4 linked regions of the Homo sapiens genome follow. The protein of the gene in region 3 purifies or fractionates together with the protein of the main gene of each other region. This does not show direct contact. Each region holds a gene or a part of one and is shown on either strand. Other genes may lie near its edges.

Region 1 (4,662 bases), on a different chromosome or scaffold from region 3:
CCGCACACAGGCCCTGCCTGCCGTGATGGGAACTTGTGTATTCAAGGAACAGAAAGGCCCTGCTGAGCCAGTCCCAGGAGTAAGGGTGTGCAGCACGCGAGGACGCTGGAGAGGCTGCAGGCAGGGAAGGACTTGGATCTAGCAGCTTCCAGAATCCAAATCAGAATCTGGATTGCCTCCCCTTCTCCCCCAGGGACGGCTGCTTCCCAGGGTCCGGCACTGGGCTTGGACACAGGCTGATTCCTTTCAGGTCACAAGCAGGATGAAGTTTGGGACAATGTGCCATGTGGCCCGCCGACCCCCTGCCACCCAAGTGCCCCTGGCCACTGCCCGAGGCCAAGAGCTGCAGGGATGCAGCCCCCACCCACCTCCAAATCCTCTCGTCTTCAGTTCCTCATCCCGGATGATGGTTGGGATGATCCCCAGCTCCTTTCCAACTTTGTTAATCTCCTGGACATGTTCATGGAAAAAACAACAGCACAACAACACATGAAGATGGCTGGAAACAGGAGAGGCCGAGGCTGGGGCCAGGGATGAACCGCTGCCTGTGCCGCGTCGGGGAGCCGGGCTTGGGAGCCAGCTTCGCGTGTGATGAAACCCAGAAGAGGGGGCTCACCCTCCACACACTCTCATTTCCTGTAGCTCTGGCTGTGGTCCTGCCAAGGGGCCTTGAAGAGGAGGCTCTGTCCTCCCCACACACCCTTTCCTGAGGCTTCCTGGAGCCCGGCAGACAGCAGCGCTCCGCCGAGGGCAGCCCTGAGGTTCCCTGGCCACGTCAGGGTGTGGACAGCCCCAGGTTTCCTCTGGCTCTCCTGGGAGTCTATGACACCCACCCCAGCCTGGTCCCACCCCCGGCCTGATGACGCCACAAACCTCGAGGAAGGTGTCGGTGTTCATCTCATTGCAGGGTGTGTCCACGATGCGGGCTGCTAGCCGCACGCCGTCTGTGGCATTCGCTAAGCACTAGGGAGAAAAAGGCCATCACTGGGGACCAGGTGGGAGGCAGATGTTCTCCCCTTGTCCATCCCCCAGGAACAAAAGGCAGCAGAGGCAAACATCACCCACAGGGCTACTGACAGGGCAGCAAAGAGAGGGGAGAGGGGGACCATGGCTCTCGCTGCCTGCCCCACCCCCAGCAACCCAGGGCCACCGGCCACCTGTAGAAAGAACCTTCAGCACAGCCACCACCCTGCGCCTCCACAAATATACAGGAGTCCCCAGCCTGGGGTCCTGCCCTTCTGTATCTGGATCTTTTCCAAGCCCTGTGTCCTGTTTCTCCCCTGATTCCAGCTACAACTGAAGGTAGGTGGCCCTCATGCCAGCCCCTGAGTATGCCCTGAGCTTCCCACGCCTCACCTCTGCAGATCCCACAGTCCTTTCCCTCCCACCAAGATCCCAGTCATCCTTCGAGGCACTTCTCATAGGCCGTATCTACCAGTAGCTTTTCCAGATCCTCCCCACCAAGCAGAAGCACTCTACATCCTGAGTGCTTGAACCTGCTGGCCCTCCCAGACGCCTTCCCTCTGGGCCGTTGCTTTCCTCATGAGTCCCACGCAAGTCCCTCATAAACCCTGCAAGACAGATGGGGGTCTGGCTGCCCTAGTGCTGTCACTTGACACAGCACGGTTCTGGGCACGGAGGGGAAGGACACAGAGGGAGGTCTCGCCTCATGGAACTGACGTGTCCACCCAGGAACTGAAAACATGGGCCCTGCTGGCCTGGCAGGGCTTCAGAGCCCACACTCGAAGGCAGGGCAGAGAGGGGCACATGCACCAAAGCACACATCACGTGGGTCCCAAAAATGTGTCCTTCAGCCCTGGCTTGGGCCATTCTTTGCCTTCTCATGTGTGTCTCACATCTGCCCTGGGAGCTTCACTCTCTCTCAGCTGAATCTGCGGGCACCCCTTCCCCACCCTGTTCCCCACTGTGCATCCCCAGGCACAGAAGCTTCAGACAGCTGGCTGCTTGCACGGCCTCCCTTGCTCACCAGAAAGACAATATTAAGAGAAGAGCAGCGCTGTTTTGCGGGGGTGCAGGACAGCAGCAAGTTTATCATCCCTGCCTCTAGTCTCATAATGTCAGGGCAGCAGGCGCCGGGTCGATACTGCAGCCTGGCCACCTCCCCCGCCCTGCCGAGGTAATTAAACCCCAAAGCCTCAAAGGTAGAAACCTGGACCTTGACAGCTCTGATATGAATGTGCCTGAGCCGTCCCTGCCGCCTGTCAGCGGGTTCTCTGTCTGTGAGGGCATGTGGGGACTCGACAAGGACTGTCTGAGAAGTGCGTCAATGCTGTGTGACTTGCCTCCAAGGAGGCCAGGTGTCACCTGGAAGACCCCAGACCACGGCGAGCTCGGGGCTCTGACGCAAGAGCGCTCCTGTGGGAGGGAGGGCAGGGCTGCGGGTGCCCTCCACCAACACACAGCCATGCTGCACTGGGGAAGGGTGTCCCTTACCATGAGAGGAGGACCACTCATTCTGTCCACATGTGCCAGGCATCGTGCAAGACTCTGAGAATTCAGAGACGTCCAAGGGAGTCAAGCTCAGCAGAGACTCACAGTACACAGTCCCAGTCCCTGCTACAGAAGAGGATGAGGCCACAGGATGCAGAGGGGACAGGGTCCTGGGTGGGGACTGGAAGGTTCCCGCAGGGAAGAAAAGGGAGAAGCTGAGTACAGGCCACGTGGGTGTCAGATGATGGTGTGCTCAGGACCCAAGAGGGCTGAGTGGTGGCAGCTGCAGCTTAACACCTGGCTCTGCCCCTTGCTGCCGTGGCCCCGGTGAGCCACTCAATGTCGTGGGGACAACAGGATGTATCTCACAGGGCTGTAGTGAGAATTCAGTGCACCAGCACGTGCTGTGTGCACACTCCTGCCTCAGCGCAGGGCCTGACAGCTGACAGCACTCAGAAGATGCCACCTTGCACACACCCAGATGTGCCTTTGGAAGGCGAGTGACGCAGGAGCTGGAAGGAGGCCATCTGTGGCAGGGTGACCAGGAGACTGCTGCCACAGCCCAGGAGAGCACCTCAAGGCACGGCACTGGGCAGAGCAAAGACAAGAAACAGGACACACTAGCTAGTTGGGACCAATGGGGTCGGGGGCCATGGGGACTGACTGCCCCCACTGGTTCCATCACCAGATGTTTACTGGGCCTTTTTCATGTGTGGGGTCGGGTGCTGGGATCACTGTGCACAAGACCAGGTCCCTGCCCTCTGGGGACTCCCAACCCAGTGAGGAGCACAGGAGATCAACAAAGATGTGACATGTCTAGTAGTGATGGTTTAGCTGACAAATGGGAGGGTGGTGCTAGCCAAGAGGGCCAGGCCTCCCTGGGGAGGGAATGTGGGCAGAGGCTGGATGGAGACCATGCTGGGCTGGAGAGGGAAGGACCCCTGCAGAGGAGCAAGAGCAGGAGTGGGCGTGGCCAGTCTAAGGGACAGCAGGAAGTCCACAGGAGGGGAAGGGACTGAGGGCAGCAGAGGTCAGGGTGCCCTGCTGTCCTCGGAAATAAGGGTGATGCTTGAGCCCCCGGTGGGCTCTGCGGGCACCCGTGCCCACCTGGATGGCAGGCCTGGAAGTCAGAAGAAAATCCCTAAAGACAGAGAGAAGAGGCAGATGCTGGTGTCTGACCCGGAGAGGGCTGAGCAGGTCGGAACGCTGGAGAGGCCATGAAGGGGATGCCGAGAGGTGGCAGCAGTCTGGGGAGCAGCGGGAGGGAGGGAGACCTCTGGATGGGGCAGATGCACTTCAAGGAGGGACGGCAACACCCCATCCAGCAGTCCTTAGAAAACAATGTCAGGATGGGGGCAAAAACTCTGTCTCCATGGGTTAAGAGGGAAAAGAGGATTAAGCAAGGCAAACCAGTTAGACTTTTTTAAAAGCTCAGAGACGAAGGGAAAAAAGGGGAGCTATCTCATGCTGGTGAAGATGGAAGAATTTGGGTTGAGGGGCAGTGGTTACAGGCCTCAGAGAGCACACAGTGAAAGAAATGAGGTGTGGCCCAAGTGCTGATGTGGGAGAGCTTGCCTGGGTGAAGGCGACAGCCTTCCAGAGCCAGAAGTGAAGAATGAGCGCTGACACATGAGAAAAGACAACCTGGGTGGCGCTGTGGGCTCGGGGACTGGAGGTGGCAGGCGCAGAGGCTGGGACCGCTGCCGTGGGGACAGGAGCCTGATGTCAGGCCCATCCAAGGATCTGGAGCTGGGAAATCACTTCCGGCCTTGCAGCCTCAAAAGGATCATTCTCAGCATTGAGTGAAATAACACATGTAGAAGTGCTCCCTGTAAAGGGTGCAGCAACACACATGCACACACACCACACACACACCACTCATGCACACACTAGCACTCATACACACACAGCAACACACACAACACACACACACACCACTCATGCACACACCAGCACTCATACACACAGCAACACATGCTGCTCATGCACACACCAGTACTCACACACAACAACACACACCACACATGCACACACCACACATGCACACCACACACACACACCACTCATGCACACACCAGCAAACACACACACACAGCAACACATACCACACGTACACCACACACACCACTCATGCACACACCAGCAAACATACACAGCAACACATACCACACACACACACACATCACACATGCACACACACACCCCCCACAC
Region 2 (4,662 bases), on a different chromosome or scaffold from region 3:
TAGCCTTTCCCTCAGAATTGCTTGGTAAACACGAGCATGTTCTATTGCAAAACCACCATGTGGAACTTCTGGTTCCTTTCCAAACTGCAGACGTCAGCTCATCTCCCTCAGAAATGAGAACTGACCCTCCTCCCCACCTGCAGGGAGCCCAACTCCGCCTCCTCTCAGCCAAACTTCTCATGGATATAGCTTATCTCCCACAACTAAACTAAGTTCCTTGAAGGTAAGGACTGAGTGCTACTTTTTAAAAAATCTCCTGCGGTACCCAACACTGCTATACATGAAGAATATTTTCCGGCCGGGCACGGTGGCTCACGCCTGCAATCCCAGCACTTTGGGAGGCCGAGGTGGGCAGATCACAAGATCTGGAGTTGGAGACCATCCTGGCCAACCTGGTGAAACCCCATCTCTACTAAAAATACAAAAAATGAGCTGGACGTTGTGGCACATGCCTGTAGTCCCAGCTACTTGGGAGGCTGAGGCAGGAGAATCTCTTGAATCTGGGAGGCAGAGCTTGCAGTGAGCCGAGATCACACCACTGCACTCCAGCCTGGCCATAGAGCAAGACTCCACCTCAAAAAAAAAAAAAAAAAAAAAAAAAAAGAGTATTTTCCAAATGACTGAACAGATGAATCATTGACTTGAAACAATTCCACTGGCAGGGAACTGGCAGGCCCTCATAAAATAGTAAATATTCACTATTTAGCAACTTTTCAAAAGATTTTTTGGGACACACAAGTTAATGATGAACAGGATATAGGCAGTTGGGATCATCTTTCCAGGATGACCACCAGTAGTATTTTATAAATGATAATGTAAGTACAGCAAATAGCACCTATTCACTCAGTCTGGACACATTTCTCCAGGCTCCAGAAAAATGTAAATGGGAGTTTTGCTATAAGAAGGGCCTCAAAAATCTCTGTACGATTTTTGAATACATAAGGACCTCATTTTAATCCTAGCAACACTTTAATGTGTTAATTTATTTCATACTTCAAGTAATGAAATTGAGGCTCAGGGCCAGGCATGGCAACTCACACCTGTAACCCCAGCACTTTGGGAGGCCAGGAGTTCAAGACCAGCCTGGGCATTGCTACAAAAAAAAAAGTTAGCTGGGCATGGTGGGATGGGCCTATAGTCCTACCTACTGAGCTAGGACTCTTTTTTTTTTTTTTTTTGAGACAGAGTCTCACTCTGTCGCCCAGGCTGGAGTACAGTGGCGCGATCTCGGCTCACTGCAAGCTCCACCTCCCGGGTTCATGCCATTCTCCTGCCTCAGCCTCCCAAGTAGCCAGGAACACAGGCACCCACCACCATGCCTGGCTAATTTTTTTTTTATTTTTTCAGTAGAGATGGGGTTTCACCGGTTAGCCAGGATGGTCTCGGCCTCCCAAAGTGCTGGGATTACAGGTGTGAGCCACCGCGCCCAGCCTGGGCTAGGACTCTTAAAAAAAAAAAAAAAAGAACTAAAGAAAGAAAAACGACGTTAGAAAAGTGAAATATTGTGGCTGGGCGCAGTGGCTCATGCCTGTAATCCCAGTACTTTGGGAGGCCGAGGTGGGCGGATCAGGAGGTCAGGAGATCGAGACCATCCTGGCCTACACGGTGAAACCCCATCTCTACTAAAAATACAAAAATTAGCCGGGCGTAGTGGCTCACGCCTGTAATCCCAGCTACTCGGGAGGCTGAGGCAGGAGAATCACTTGAACCTGGGAGTCAGAGGTTGCAGTGAGCCAAGATCACCACTGCACTCCAGGCTGGCAACAGAGCGAGACTCTGTCTCAAAGAAAAGTAAAATATCTTAGCCCAGGGCTGCACAGAAAGTTAGCCACAGAGGCAGGACTCGAAACCCCAAAGCACATGCTCTAAGTAATCCACAGAGTTCCTGTGAAGCTGTTAGTTAAAATATGTACTTGGGCTGGGTGTGGTGGTTCATGCCTGTAATTCCAGCACTTTGGGAGGCTGAGGCAGGAGGATCACTTGAGCCCAGGAGTTCAAGACTGGCCTGGGCAACATGGCAAAGCCCCATTTCTACAAAAAATACAAATTATTAGCTGGTCGTGGTGGCATGCATCTGTAGTCCCAGCTATTCAGGAGGCTGAGGTGGGAGGATCACCTGAGCCTGGAAGCTAGAGGTTGCAATGAGCCGTGATTGTGGCAGTGCATTCCAGCCTGGGTGACAGAGTAAGACCCTGTGTGTGTGTGTTTTTTTCTTTTAAATAAAAAAAGGACTTGTTTGAATATAAATCTTCCTAAAGAATTACAGGTTGGGCTGGGCCCAGTGGCTCATGCCTGTAATCCCAGCACTTTGGGAGGCCAAGGCGTGCGGATCATGAGGTCATAAGTTCGAGACCAGCCTGGCCAACATGACTAAAAATACAAAAATTACCCAGGTGTGGTGGCAGGCACCTGTAACCCCAGCTACTTGGGAGGCTGAGGCAGGAGAATCGCTTGAACCCGGGAGGCGGAAGTTGTAGTGAGCCGAGATCACACCACTGCACTCTAGCCTGGGTGACAAAGCAAGACTCTGTCTCCAGGGGAAAAAAAAAAAAGGGCCTGGTATGGTGGCTTATGCCTGTAATCCCAGCACTTAGGGGAGTCAAGGCAGGAGGATCCTTTGAGCCTAGGAGTTCAACCACAGCCTAGGCAACACAGTGAAACCACGTCTCTACAAAAATTTAGAAATTAGGCTGGGCAAGGTGGCTCACATCTGTAATCCCAGCACTTTGGAAGGCTGAGGTGGGCAGATCAACTTGAGGCCAGGAGTTTGAGACCAGCCTGGCTAACATGGTGAAACCCTGTCTATAGCAAAAATATAAAAAATTAATTGGGTGTGGTGGCACACACCTGAGGCATGAGACTTACTTGAGCCTCAGAGGTGGAGGCTGCAGTGAGCCGAGATTGTGCCACTGCACTCCAGTCTGGGTGACAGAGTGAGACTGTGTCTCAATAAAAAAAAAAAGGCCAGGTGCAGTGGTTCACGCCTGTAATCCCAGCACTTTGGGAGGCCAAGGCGGGCAGACCACAAGGTCAGGAAATCAAGACTGTCCTGGCCAACATGGTGAAACCCCATCTCCACTAAAAATACTAAAATTAGCTGGGTGTGGTGGCGCCCGCCTGTAATTCCAGCTACTCAGGAGGCTGAGGCAGAAGAATGGCTTGAACCCAGGAGGCGGAGACTGTAGTGAGCAGAGATCACACCACTGCACCGCAGCCTGGCAACAAAGCAAGACTCTATCTTAAAAAAAAAAAAAAATTATTTGGCCAGGCACAGTGGCTCACACCTGTAACCCCAGCACTTTGGGAGGCCAAGGCGGGCGGATCACCTGAGGTCAGGAGTTCGAGACCAGCCTGGCCAACACAGCGAAACCCCGTCTCTACTAAAAAATACAAAAATTAGATGGGCATAGTGGTGGGCCCCTGTAATACCAGCTATGCGGGAGGCTGAGGTAGGAAAATCGCTTGAACCCAGGAGGTGGAGGTTGCAGTGAGCCGAGATCATACCATTGCACTCCAGCCTGGGTGACAGAGCAAGACTCCATCACAAAAAAAACCAAAAAGAAATACACAAGGCCAGGCATGGTTGCTTACACTTGTAATCCCAGAACTCTGAGAGGCTGAGACGAGAAGATCACTTGAGCCCAGGCGTTCAAGACCAGCCTAGGCAACATGGCAAAACCCTGTCTCTAAAAAAAAATACAAAAAATTACCCGAGCCTGGTGGCGCACGCCTGTATTCTCAGCTACTCTGGGTGGCTGAGGCAGGATGATCACTTGAGTCCCGGAGGTTGAGGCTGCAGTGAGCCCAGATTTTCCCACAGCACTCCAGCCTGGCCAAGAGAACAAGACCCTGTCTCAAAAAAAAAAAAAAGAAAAGAAAAGAAAGAAAGATGCAATAAATGGGTGCAAGGCTACTTTAGACTGGGTCAGGGAACGTCCCGGAGCTGAAATCTGAGCTGTGGAAAGGAGCCAACCATGAAATCTGGGATGAGAGCAATCTACGCAGAGTAAACAAGTGCAGAGCACCCCAAGTTCAAAGGCCAGACAAAGGAGAAAGTGTGACTGGCCAAGGGTCAGAAATCAGGCTTGCACACCTGAAGTCTGGGGAGTCACAGGACCACAAGAGTCAAGACCACCCTGGGCAACATAGGGAGACCCCGTCTCTCTAAAGAAAGAAAAAAAAGCGGTCAGGCGCGGTGGCTGACGCCTGTAATCCCAGCACTTTGGGAGGCCGAGGTGGGTGGATCACTTGAGGTCAGGAGTTTGAGACCAGCCTGGCCAATATGGTGAAACCCCATCTCTACTAAAAATACAAAAATTAGCTGGGCGCAGTGGCTCAATTCCTGTAATCCAAGCACTTTGGGAGGCCAAGGCGGGTGCATCACCCCAGGTCAGGAGTTCGAGACCAGCCTGACCAACACGGTAAAACTCCATCTCTACTAAAAATACAAAAATGAGCTGGGTGTGTGGTGCGCACCTGTAACCCCAGCTACTCAGGAGGCTGAGGCAAGATAATCGCTTGAACCCAGGAGGTTGCAGTGAGCTGAGATCGTGCCACCGCACTCCAGCCTGGACAACAGAGCAAGACTCTGTCTCAAAAAAAAAAAAAAAAACAAAAACAAAAATTAGCCAGGCATGGTGGCATATGCCTGTAATCCCAGCT
Region 3 (5,410 bases):
ATCTTACATAACTACACTACAATGATCAAAACCATGAAACTGACATTGGTACAACACTATTAACTATAGATCTTATTTGTATTTCACATGTTTTTACATTTACTGTGTGTGTGTATGTGCATAGTTCTATGAAGCTTCATCATATGCACAATCTCGTATAACCACCACCTCGACCAGGACATAGAACCATTCCATCACTAAAAAGAAACTTCCTCATGTTGTTCCTTTATCTACCTTCCCGTCAACCATAAGCCCTGGCAAACACTGCTCTGTTTTCTATCACTTTCTCGTTCCATGAATGTTACATAAATCGAATCATACAGCATATAACCTTTTGAAGTTGGCTTTTTTTCATTCAACATAATGTTCTTGAGATTCATCCAAGCTGCTGCATATATCAAATTGGTTCCTTTTTATTGCTGAATAGTATTCCATTGTATAAATGTACCTGCTGAAGGACATTTAGGCTGATTCCAGTTATTAGCAATTCATATTTATTTTTTGAAAAGATCTGAACAAAGTATGCAGCCTGGGCCACTGGGCAGACAGAGCAGATGCAGACAGGCCATTAAGGAAGATATAGAAGTAGTTCCATCAGAAGTAAGTAACAACCTAGACTAATGATTTTCATAGTGGGAAGGGCTGATTATGCCCCCAAGGGGTCACTTGGCAATGTCCAAGACATTTTTTATTGTCACTACTAGAGGGCTACTACTGGCATATAGCATGAAGAGGTTAGGAATACTACTAAAAATCCTCCAATGCACAGCCTACACACAAGAATTAAGTGGCCCCAAATTTCAATAGTGCCAAAGTTGAAAAACTCTGACCTAGACTCAAGTGATGATAGTGGAGATGGAGAAAAGTAAATAAGTTCAAGACAAGATTAGGTGGCAAAATTCAGTGACTGGGTATGGAGGAAGGGAAAGGAGGCATGACTTGCACAACTAGATAGATGGTGGTGCCATGCACAAAGATAGGAAACACTGCAGAAGGCCAATGTGTTTGATGTTCTTTCTGGGGGAGTCGGATGGGGGAAATCATAAAATGTTTAGTCTTTGACATGCTGTTTAAGTTCCTTGAAACAAACATCTAAGTAGAGACACTGACTTGGTCTGGAGCTTAGCAACCACATAAATGTGGGTGTCATCAGTGTACTGATAGTCTAACGTCATGTTTTGAGATGAGATTACGTAAGAGAATACCAAGAGAAAAGAGAATATGATGTTAAACCAATTATTGGTTTAGTAAGATGGAAGACAAGTTTGCAGAGAATAAGAGATGAGCTAAAAGAAAGGAAGAAAACCAGGAGACTGTGGTGTCCAAAAGCCAGAGTTTCGCAGTATGAATGGGCAACAGTATTAATGCTGCAGAGAAGCCAAATAGGATACTATCTGAGAAGTTCAATGGATCTGCCAAACTGGAGATGAATTTAGGGAGAACGGTTTTCATATAAAGAGTGGAGAAAGATTCCAGTGTAAACTGAATCGAGCAGTGGCAGGTGAGACTAACACGCATGACACTTTCAAAAAGTTTGGCTGTGAACGTAGGAAAGATCTATGGCACTAAGCAGAGAACAGGGATCCGGGGAGGCTGAATCCTTTCATTCAGTACCTATACATCGAAGGTAAATAACCTGAGATAGAAATGCCCCTTTGGAGATTTTACCACTCCTCAACCAAAGCTCCCTCTTTTCTTCATTTAATTTTTTATTGGTCATTCACCCTCTACTACAGATGCTCCCCAATCCTTACAATGACTAGTAGAAGTCCTATTGTAAGAGAATCCCTAACATTAACAAATGTGTCTGCAAAAGAAACTGTACAATGAATACAAAGTCATTAAGTGGAATAAATAATCAATTTCTTTGTCTTTAATGGCTTTTTATATGAAAACTGCCGTAATGGCAATACTGAGGTAAATTTTACATGCATAAACATAGTGCCTTCTACTAAAAAAACCTATTATGATAAAACAATACTGAAGTGTCAGAGTTGGTAACTGTTTTAGGGCTCAAGTCTTGTCACGAAAAGTACTATTCATATATCAACACTAAAGAAAAAGTGAAGAAAATGGTTTGGAAAACTGAGTTCTCAGTCCGGCTAGACCCTGTTGTTCCAATTTGCTTGTGCCTTGGTTTTTCTGTTAAAAAAAAAAAAAAAAAGTGGATGTCTATTTACAAGTTTACAAGAAATGGAAGAGTGAAGCTCTGATAAACTTTAAAGCATTAAGAGCAATTATTGCTGACCTACTCGTGCCACAAGATTGTCTCTACTACCAAACAGTGAGCGCTAGTTAGAGCCTAATCTGACCCCGAAATAAAATTTTATAAATTTTCACTGAATTAAACACTGGCTGCACAGGAGAAAGACTGAATGCCAAGATGTGTCACGATCGCAGAAATGCACATGTTGTCTCTCAAAATAACTACTTCGAATGACAAAAACACTATTGGCTATAAATTCTGTCAATCTAGGAAACGTGCTATCTGCAAATTTGCCTGAAGCAGGTCCCAAGACCAAACAAAGAAACGAGAGAATGCAAAAACTCTCCCAAGCGGCGCTAAGCACCGATGGGGTAACCTCAGGGAAAATAAGCTTCCTTTCATTGCAGGTCCTGGTGTGATGACTCTCGAGCCTCCTGGGCCTCTCCAGGGCCAGAGCGGCCGAAATCCTGTTTCAGGAGACAGCGGCTTCCCCTCAGGCTCTGCCACGTCTCCAGGCCAGACAGGGCCGGGCTAAGGTCCGCCGGCGCTCCCGCCAGTCTCCCCTAAAGTCAGCGCCCTGGAAGGTGGGGCCAGAGCGCTCCTGCCTTGGTCCTTGGACAGGAGCAAAGTGTCGCGGGGCGAGACCCTCGAACCGCGCCCACCGTGCCATCCCCAGCGGAAACTGCTCACCTTGCGATGTGCACTCCTGCCTGCTGCACCCCGCACGCCGCCACAGCTGAGCCTGGACCACGGGACTAGGGGGCTCGCAAACGACATCGGCGTCCAGTGGCGCCGGCCGGCCCGCCCACCTTCCAGGGACACCGTCCCTCGGGGTCTGGCTCTGGCGCCTGCAAGCCATGCCATGCCATGCCACCCCCCTCATACACGCCCCTCGGAGCCACCTGGCGCTCACCTGGGGACCGGGAAAGTGCCTGCGTGGTCGCTGAAGAGTGTGGTATGATAGGGAGGTCGGGACGTAGAACTACAGCTTGGAGAAGACAACGAAGGCGCACCCTGGAAGTTACCTCGGCGTGTCCCCGCCTACAAGATGGCCACGGGCGGCGCATGCTCCTGCGGCTGCCACGTCGGCCGCGCGCCGCACCGCGCCGCGCGTCGCCGCCCCGCCCCGCTCCGCCCCGCATCGCATCGCCCCGCTCCGCCTCCGCATCGCCCCGCCCCCCCTGTCCCATGCGCTGTGAACCCGGCCGGGACGCTGCAAGTTAAACTTTGGAGCCAAGATCTTCCTAACTACCGAGACTTGGTTCTGCCCACACCCTCTAGAAACATCTTCCAAAGGGCTGGCCTCCTTTCTACTTCGCAGCCCCCTTACACGAGAGTGGCACTCTTGTTACCAGGCGTAGCTCACTCATCCTGTGCCACAGCGGCCCAAGGGATAAGATCAGTTAGCCAAGGTCATCTGGTTGGCGGTCATCTAGCCAACATCAGCTAGTCCAGTCAGCACCTCCAGGAAGGACCTCGCGGCAGATACAGGGGACTTAGCCTGTATAGTCAAAGATTTCCAGATAACAGTGATTATATCAGGAGAGAGGGATTAGGAGAAGAGGGAGAGGGGAGAAGAGTAGCAGTTACTGTACTGAATTTTTCCCCAAGTGCATGTATTGCACATTCTTTTTTTAATTGTAAAATAGACAGATTATCAACTTTCTTATTATATGCTGCACCTAACACAGTACCTGAAATAGTTGGTGTTCAATAATGTACATTAAATAAATTAATGGAGTGCGATAGAGGAAAATAAGGAACTTCAAATCAGAAGTCTTGATTTGAGTCTGAGACTACTCTAATGCCAGTTGTACAGTTGCCTGCCCTTGTACAGGTCACTTAGTCTCCATAAGTCTTCATATTTCTACCTGCAAACTGAGAATAATACTATCCACCATCCCTAAATCAGGCAGGTGACAGACTCAAATAAAATAGAGCATATGAAAATTTTTTAAACTTTTTGTCTTTTTGAGATGGTGTCTTGCCCTGTTGCCCAGGCTGGAGTGCAATGGCGCCATCTCGGCTCACTGCAACCTCTGCCTCCCGGGTTCAAACGATTCTCCTGCCTCAGCCTCCCGAGTAGCTGGGATTACAGGCACAGGCCACCACACCCAGCTAATTTTTGTACTTTTAGTAGAGACAGGGTTTCACCATTTTGGCCAGGCTGGTCTCGAACTCCTGACCTCGGCCCGCCTCGGCCTCCTAAAGTGCTGGGATTACAGGCGTGAGCCACCGCACCTGTCCGAAAACATTTTTTAAATTGCTTAGCATTAAATATATAAAAAATTGTTTTTGTTGTTCTCAATTTTTTTTCAGGAACTCACTTAGAGATTTCACATTAATCTATCTCTTGAGCTTCACAGTTGTAAGCATTCCAAAATACCTCACTGAAAAGTTAATACTATGTAGCAATACTCTGACTTCAGATCTCACTGTGCAACTACCATGGGCGGTTTTCTTTGGCGGTGGCTCCTATCCTCTAAGAATGTGTGTAGGTGGAGATCCAGGTTACTGTCCGGATCGTGCTGTTTGGGGTGGTGCTAAAGACAGATAACCATCTTCATCCTCTCTGATCAACACCCTTAATAGCTATAAGGTATGTTGGTTTCTCCATCCTTTCAGCAAATATTTATTAGTGGCTGCAATGTGCTGAGCATTGGTACTGGAAATGCAGTAACGAACAAGACAGACAAGGTCTTGATACCTAGGGAGCGTTCTTTATAATAGGAGAGAGGGTAGGAACAGGAAAATAAAGTAAGTACTGTTTGTGATGTGCAGTTTGAGGAGTCAACAAAGAGTGATGTAATATTGACAGTAATTGGAGTAGACCACTTCAGATAGGATGAATGGGCAAGGCTTCTCTGAATAGGTGAGATGTGAGCAGAGACGTGTAATGCAGCAGGCCTGTGCTTATCCGGACAGAAAGAAGGGCATGCAAAGACTTAAGGATGGAGTGTGCTCGGCATGTGCGCAGACAACAGGGAAGCAGGACTGTGAGAATGGTAAAGAAGACAGGACAGGGAGTGGGGCCAGATCGTGTCTAGCCTTGTAGGTCATGGGAAAGCCTTTGATTACACTCTGAGAGAAATGAGAAGCACGTGGAGGGTTTTGAGCAGAGAACTGACAATATTTGATATCAATTTCTGATCACACTCTGATTGCTGTGTGACTGCAGTCCATGTGAGGATGAGTGCAGGATGA
Region 4 (4,662 bases), on a different chromosome or scaffold from region 3:
TTGTTTGTGTTCTAAGGAAAAACAAAATCCCTTCTACAGTGAAAAGTTCTTCAACTGAATGTCAACTCTGCTTCCTGTACTTCTGTTATTTATAGAACACCAACTTCATCAGGACTTTAGGCTGAACCTAGAATCCCGTCATAACTGGGAATACTTGCCAAAGCATTACTCGGGTATCTGAAATTTAAGAAAGATGAATTAATTTGGTCATCAGACCTCAGTATCTGTAAGAATGTGGATGTGTGGATGCCACCTTAAAGTTATTCATGAAGTGGATAATTAATTTTTAAATAAGCTCCCCTATAATTCTGAAGGAGGTGGTATGTAAGAACCACATATGAAAAAACTGGTTTAATCTAAGGACAATGTTAGCTATCTACTTAAGGATTATCATTGTAGAAAAAGGTTTGGTTCCACTAGTCTCTCTAAATCTTATCACCTAAAAGCATCGCTTTGCTACAGCCCATTTTATAGTGTGTTGTATCATCCCTGGCTATTTATGAAATTATACAGGTAAGCTTCAGATTAGATTTCAGAAATCTGATTTTTAATAAATATTTTCTTTCCAAGGAAAAACTGAGGAGCTTTGAGCAGATTTATATTTGGGGGTGAGAGGATAATTTTTTTCCTACAAAATAGGATAATTTTTTTCCTACAAAATAGAGAAAAGTACTTAAGTATACCACTGAACTCTTGGAAAAGATAAAAAATCAAACTAAAATGTATTTGTTTTGCTTTCCTAAGTGTCTACTCACTTTCTTCATGGCAAAAATTCTGTCTCGTGAAATGTTACTGGAATTACTATTCCACTTTACTGTTTAAAAATACCTCCCTACCCTTTACCGGAATAAGTCCCATTTACTAGACCTTTCAACTACCTGCAGGGCTGCAAACATCATCATTTCTTCTTCTGTGCATTCAATCTCTTCCAGGAGAATGGCCCATTTGGCCTGCTCGTAAAGCTGATTGATTCTGATTGCATCATACTGCAACAAGAGAAATAGTTCTTTTGTAATATATAACCTTTACCATTGAAAAATTTCAAACTCTGAATATTCAATTGACAAGAAAAATTTAATGCTTTTTTTCCTGGGATCTTAATTTACAAGCAAGAATTTTTATTTACAATCAAGTATTATTAGAAGGATACCTATGGGGTCAGACATGCCTATATATGCCCACATCTAATTTTCCATTAAAAATGACATTAAAATATGACAGAGAATAATTGATTGTACAGTATTAAAAAGTAGATTCTGTATGTTATTTTTCAGGGAAATAACCACTAGACATTATAGCCTTTAACATAAGAAATCTAATTTGATGACATTAAAGTAAGGCGGAACTACCGATTATTTTTCAGTGTTATTACTGCAACTTGCCATACAAACATGTAATCAGAAAGCAAATTATTCTGGGGAACATTTTGTTCACTGTGGAGAAGCATACCCAGATAAAGTGGCAAGTCCTTGGAAACGGCAGTTATTTTAAGTATGCAAAATACAGGGCAAATATACTTGTGGAAAATGTTTACTTATATGTTATTCAATTATCCATTTAATTATATAAATAAAAGTCAATAGTAATGCCTTAAGAATACTGCAGATTGAGTATCCCTTATCCAGAATGCTTGAGACCTTCTGTGTTGAATTTAGAATTTTTATAGATGATGGAATATTCCATTATACCAGTTGAGTGTCCCTAACATAAAAATCCAAAATGAGCATATCCTTTCAGCATCATGTCAGCCCTCAAAAGTCTTAGCTTTTGGAGCATTCTACATTTTCAAATTAGGAATGCTCAACATGTATTTTAGAACGTTGACAAAATACATCTCCATTCCCCTCACAAATGTAACTATTCCCAAAGTAGCTTTGGCTTTACTAAAAGTAGGTATGATGTGGCCTGAAAATGAATTAAAATTATTTTCTATAATTTTATTATAGAGATTTTACTGTTGTATAAAGAATTACTTAAGCATATAATAAAAGAATGTAAACATAACATTAAAATCTAGACTATACTCTAAACATGAAAAGGATGAGAGGGTAGCCAAGAGAGGTTTCTTTCCCCAGGCTGAAAGAGAAGTAAAAGATTCAAACCTCTGTGCCAAGTGTTTTCTACGGGGGAAAAAAGCTCCAGATATTTATGGTAAAGTTAAATCTTACCAGAAAAGTGAAGTACTATGGTAGCAGAGATAATACCAATCATAGTAAAGACAAGTAACAGTGTTTGTCTGTTACAGAGGAAAAAAATGTAGACCTAAGAAAAATTTGGCTGAGCATGGTGGCTCAGGCCGGTAATCCCAGCACTTTGGGAGGCTGAGGCAGGAGGATGGCTTCAGCCCAGGAGTTTTGAGACCAGCTTGGGTGAAATAGTGAGACTCTGTCTCTACAGAAAATAAGAAAGCCAGGTGTGGCTGGGTGAGCCTGTAGTCCCAGCTACTTGGGAGGCGACGTGGGAGAATGGCTTGAGTCCAGGACTTTGAGGTTACAGTGAGCCATGATCATACCACTGCATTCCAGCCTGGAGGACAGAGTGAGACCCTGTCTCAAGAAAAAAACGTTTTTTTGAAGCAACATCTTTTGGCACGTAATTAGTAATCTAAAAGTAATTGAAAAGGTAACCTTTTTGAAACTTTTATTTAAATATAGTTGAAGAGAGGTCTTATATTTTAAAAATGAACTTTGCCAATTCTTTTTTTTGTTTGTTTGAGATGGAGTCTTGCCCTGTTGCCCAGGCCGGAATGCAGTGGCATGATCTCGGCTCACTGCAAGCTCCGTCTTCCAGGTTCAAGTGATTCTCCTGCCTCAGCCTTCCAAGTAGCTGGCATTACCAGCGTGTGCCACCATGCGTGGCTAGTTTTTGTATTTTTAGTAGAGACGGGGTTTCACCATGTTGGCCAGGCTGGTCTTGAATTCCTGACCATGTGATCCGCCCACCTTGGGTTCTCAAAGTGCTGAGATTACAGGCGTTGAGCCACTGCACCCGGCCTAAACTTTGCCAGTTCTATAGTACCAAAAGAGTACCTTTAAAATACAAATCATGACACTCTAAGAGCTTAGAGATTAAAAAAAAGATAAAACCAAATCAGCCAAAAGTTTCATTATCTTAATAACAACAATAAAAAGGTTTAGTTATGCTTCCAACCTACTAAAATAGACTTATTTAAAATACAAATACCTTTGCCTAAAAGTTTGGGTTTTTAATAATTATTCAAGATTTCCTATATACAAATAATTCCTTATTCCACCGACTTCCAAAAACAAACATCCATGTGAACAAAACAAATTAATGGGGAAAAAAAAAAGATCCCTTTAAACCCTCGGTACCTTTGGATTCAAATCAAAAAAGCTGTAATACTTGAATCGGAGCAGCAAGGCCTCATTTTCCTTCACATCTTGTTCCATGAGAGATCTTGAGGAATCAAGCCATCTGGACAAATTAAGAACAGTGGAACAAAACAACACAGAATGAAGACAATATTTCTACCTCTAGCTGGATGAAGAAATTCAATTTTATCTATATCTTAAAACTTACCCTTGGTTGATTTTTGCTTTATCAAGAAGAGCTTGAGGCTTGAACATTTTTGCCAAGATTTCTGGTGACGTGATTGGTTGACTGACAGCAAGTATACCAGGATTGCCTTCTGACAAAGCACTGTCACCAAACCAAGCAGAAGTTGGTGACAAGGGGCTTCCATCATGAGCATCATAAGTGGGGGTCATTGTTTTACTATACAGTCCTGGGCTTGAATATATACTTCCTAATAAGTAACATGAAAAACAGGTAGTAAGTATGCAGTACAGCATCTTATTTTTCAATAATAACACATATTATGATATAAAGCACATTGTGAAACAAAAGTTTTATTCTGAAAGGAAAGCTTAGTATATTATTTTACCTGTTATGAAAACATGTGTAATTAATTCTCCTTGTATAACATTAAAACACGTAATAAAGCCTTAAGAATATAATTAAGTTGGCAGAAATTCTGGGGAAAAAAAATCAGTTCAAGAGAATTAGAAAATAAGGATATAGCTGAAGCAGACAGACCAACACTTTTTGTCTTTAAATTGTGGCAAGGCTCACCTTTCAGAGGGCCAATGTAAAGAACATCAGTGCCTATAGGAAAGGAAAGAAAGGAATTCAGAAGGTAAAGGAAAGGCCACAACAGAGGACAGAAACAAAAGAATGAAAAGAAAATGAGAAAAAGAAAAAACAGATTTTCCCTAATTGTGAATCATAAACTGAAGTACACATTTCAAGTGGATTTCAGAGTAAAGAACCTTAGAAGCTACAACCTAAGTAAAACGGTTTTTTTTGTTCAATTTAAAAGAATGAAGTTGTGCTGTAGTCAAGTATATAGTGACAAATATGTCTACAACTTTTACCACCATTTGAAATCCATACAATTTGAAGGTAACACAATAGAACTGAATTCATATAGATTAAGAATAATTTTATAGTAAAGTCTTCTCAGTGAATAAACAGGTTTCAACAATTTTACAAATAAAGTTTTTTTTAATTTTTAAGTTCTGGGGTACAACAAATAAAGTATTAATGTAAAAGGGGAGATAAAAGTCTGCCCTAGAAAGAGTCTAAACAGAGATATATTTAATAGTCAAATCTCAAAAGGAAGGGATATTGCCTTATTTATCT

The links.
Region 1: the proteins of PRRC1 (region 3) and NPEPL1 fractionate together in Homo sapiens (co-fractionation; one large-scale study listed by BioGRID). This does not show direct contact.
Region 2: the proteins of PRRC1 (region 3) and SHMT1 fractionate together in Homo sapiens (co-fractionation; one large-scale study listed by BioGRID). This does not show direct contact.
Region 4: the proteins of PRRC1 (region 3) and FERMT2 purify together in Homo sapiens (affinity purification with mass spectrometry; one large-scale study listed by BioGRID and IntAct). This does not show direct contact.

Annotation. Positions count from the first base shown.
Region 1 is NC_000020.11:58,694,985-58,699,646, reverse strand, and holds part of NPEPL1 (probable aminopeptidase NPEPL1), read right to left. Parts: intron 964-4,662; coding exon 874-963; intron 451-873; coding exon 369-450; intron 1-368. UniProt on the Homo sapiens protein: Probably catalyzes the removal of unsubstituted N-terminal amino acids from various peptides.
Region 2 is NC_000017.11:18,356,704-18,361,365, forward strand, and holds part of SHMT1 (serine hydroxymethyltransferase, cytosolic), read right to left. Parts: intron 3,850-4,662; exon of another isoform or gene 3,711-3,849; intron 1-3,710. UniProt on the Homo sapiens protein: Interconversion of serine and glycine.
Region 3 is NC_000005.10:127,515,486-127,520,895, reverse strand, and holds the start of PRRC1 (protein PRRC1), read right to left. Parts: upstream 3,257-5,410; 5' UTR 3,120-3,256; intron 1-3,119. UniProt on the Homo sapiens protein: May act as a regulator of the protein kinase A (PKA) activity during embryonic development.
Region 4 is NC_000014.9:52,877,704-52,882,365, forward strand, and holds part of FERMT2 (fermitin family homolog 2), read right to left. Parts: intron 4,126-4,662; coding exon of another isoform or gene 4,093-4,125; intron 3,767-4,092; coding exon 3,541-3,766; intron 3,436-3,540; coding exon 3,333-3,435; intron 987-3,332; coding exon 879-986; intron 1-878. UniProt on the Homo sapiens protein: Scaffolding protein that enhances integrin activation mediated by TLN1 and/or TLN2, but activates integrins only weakly by itself. Binds to membranes enriched in phosphoinositides.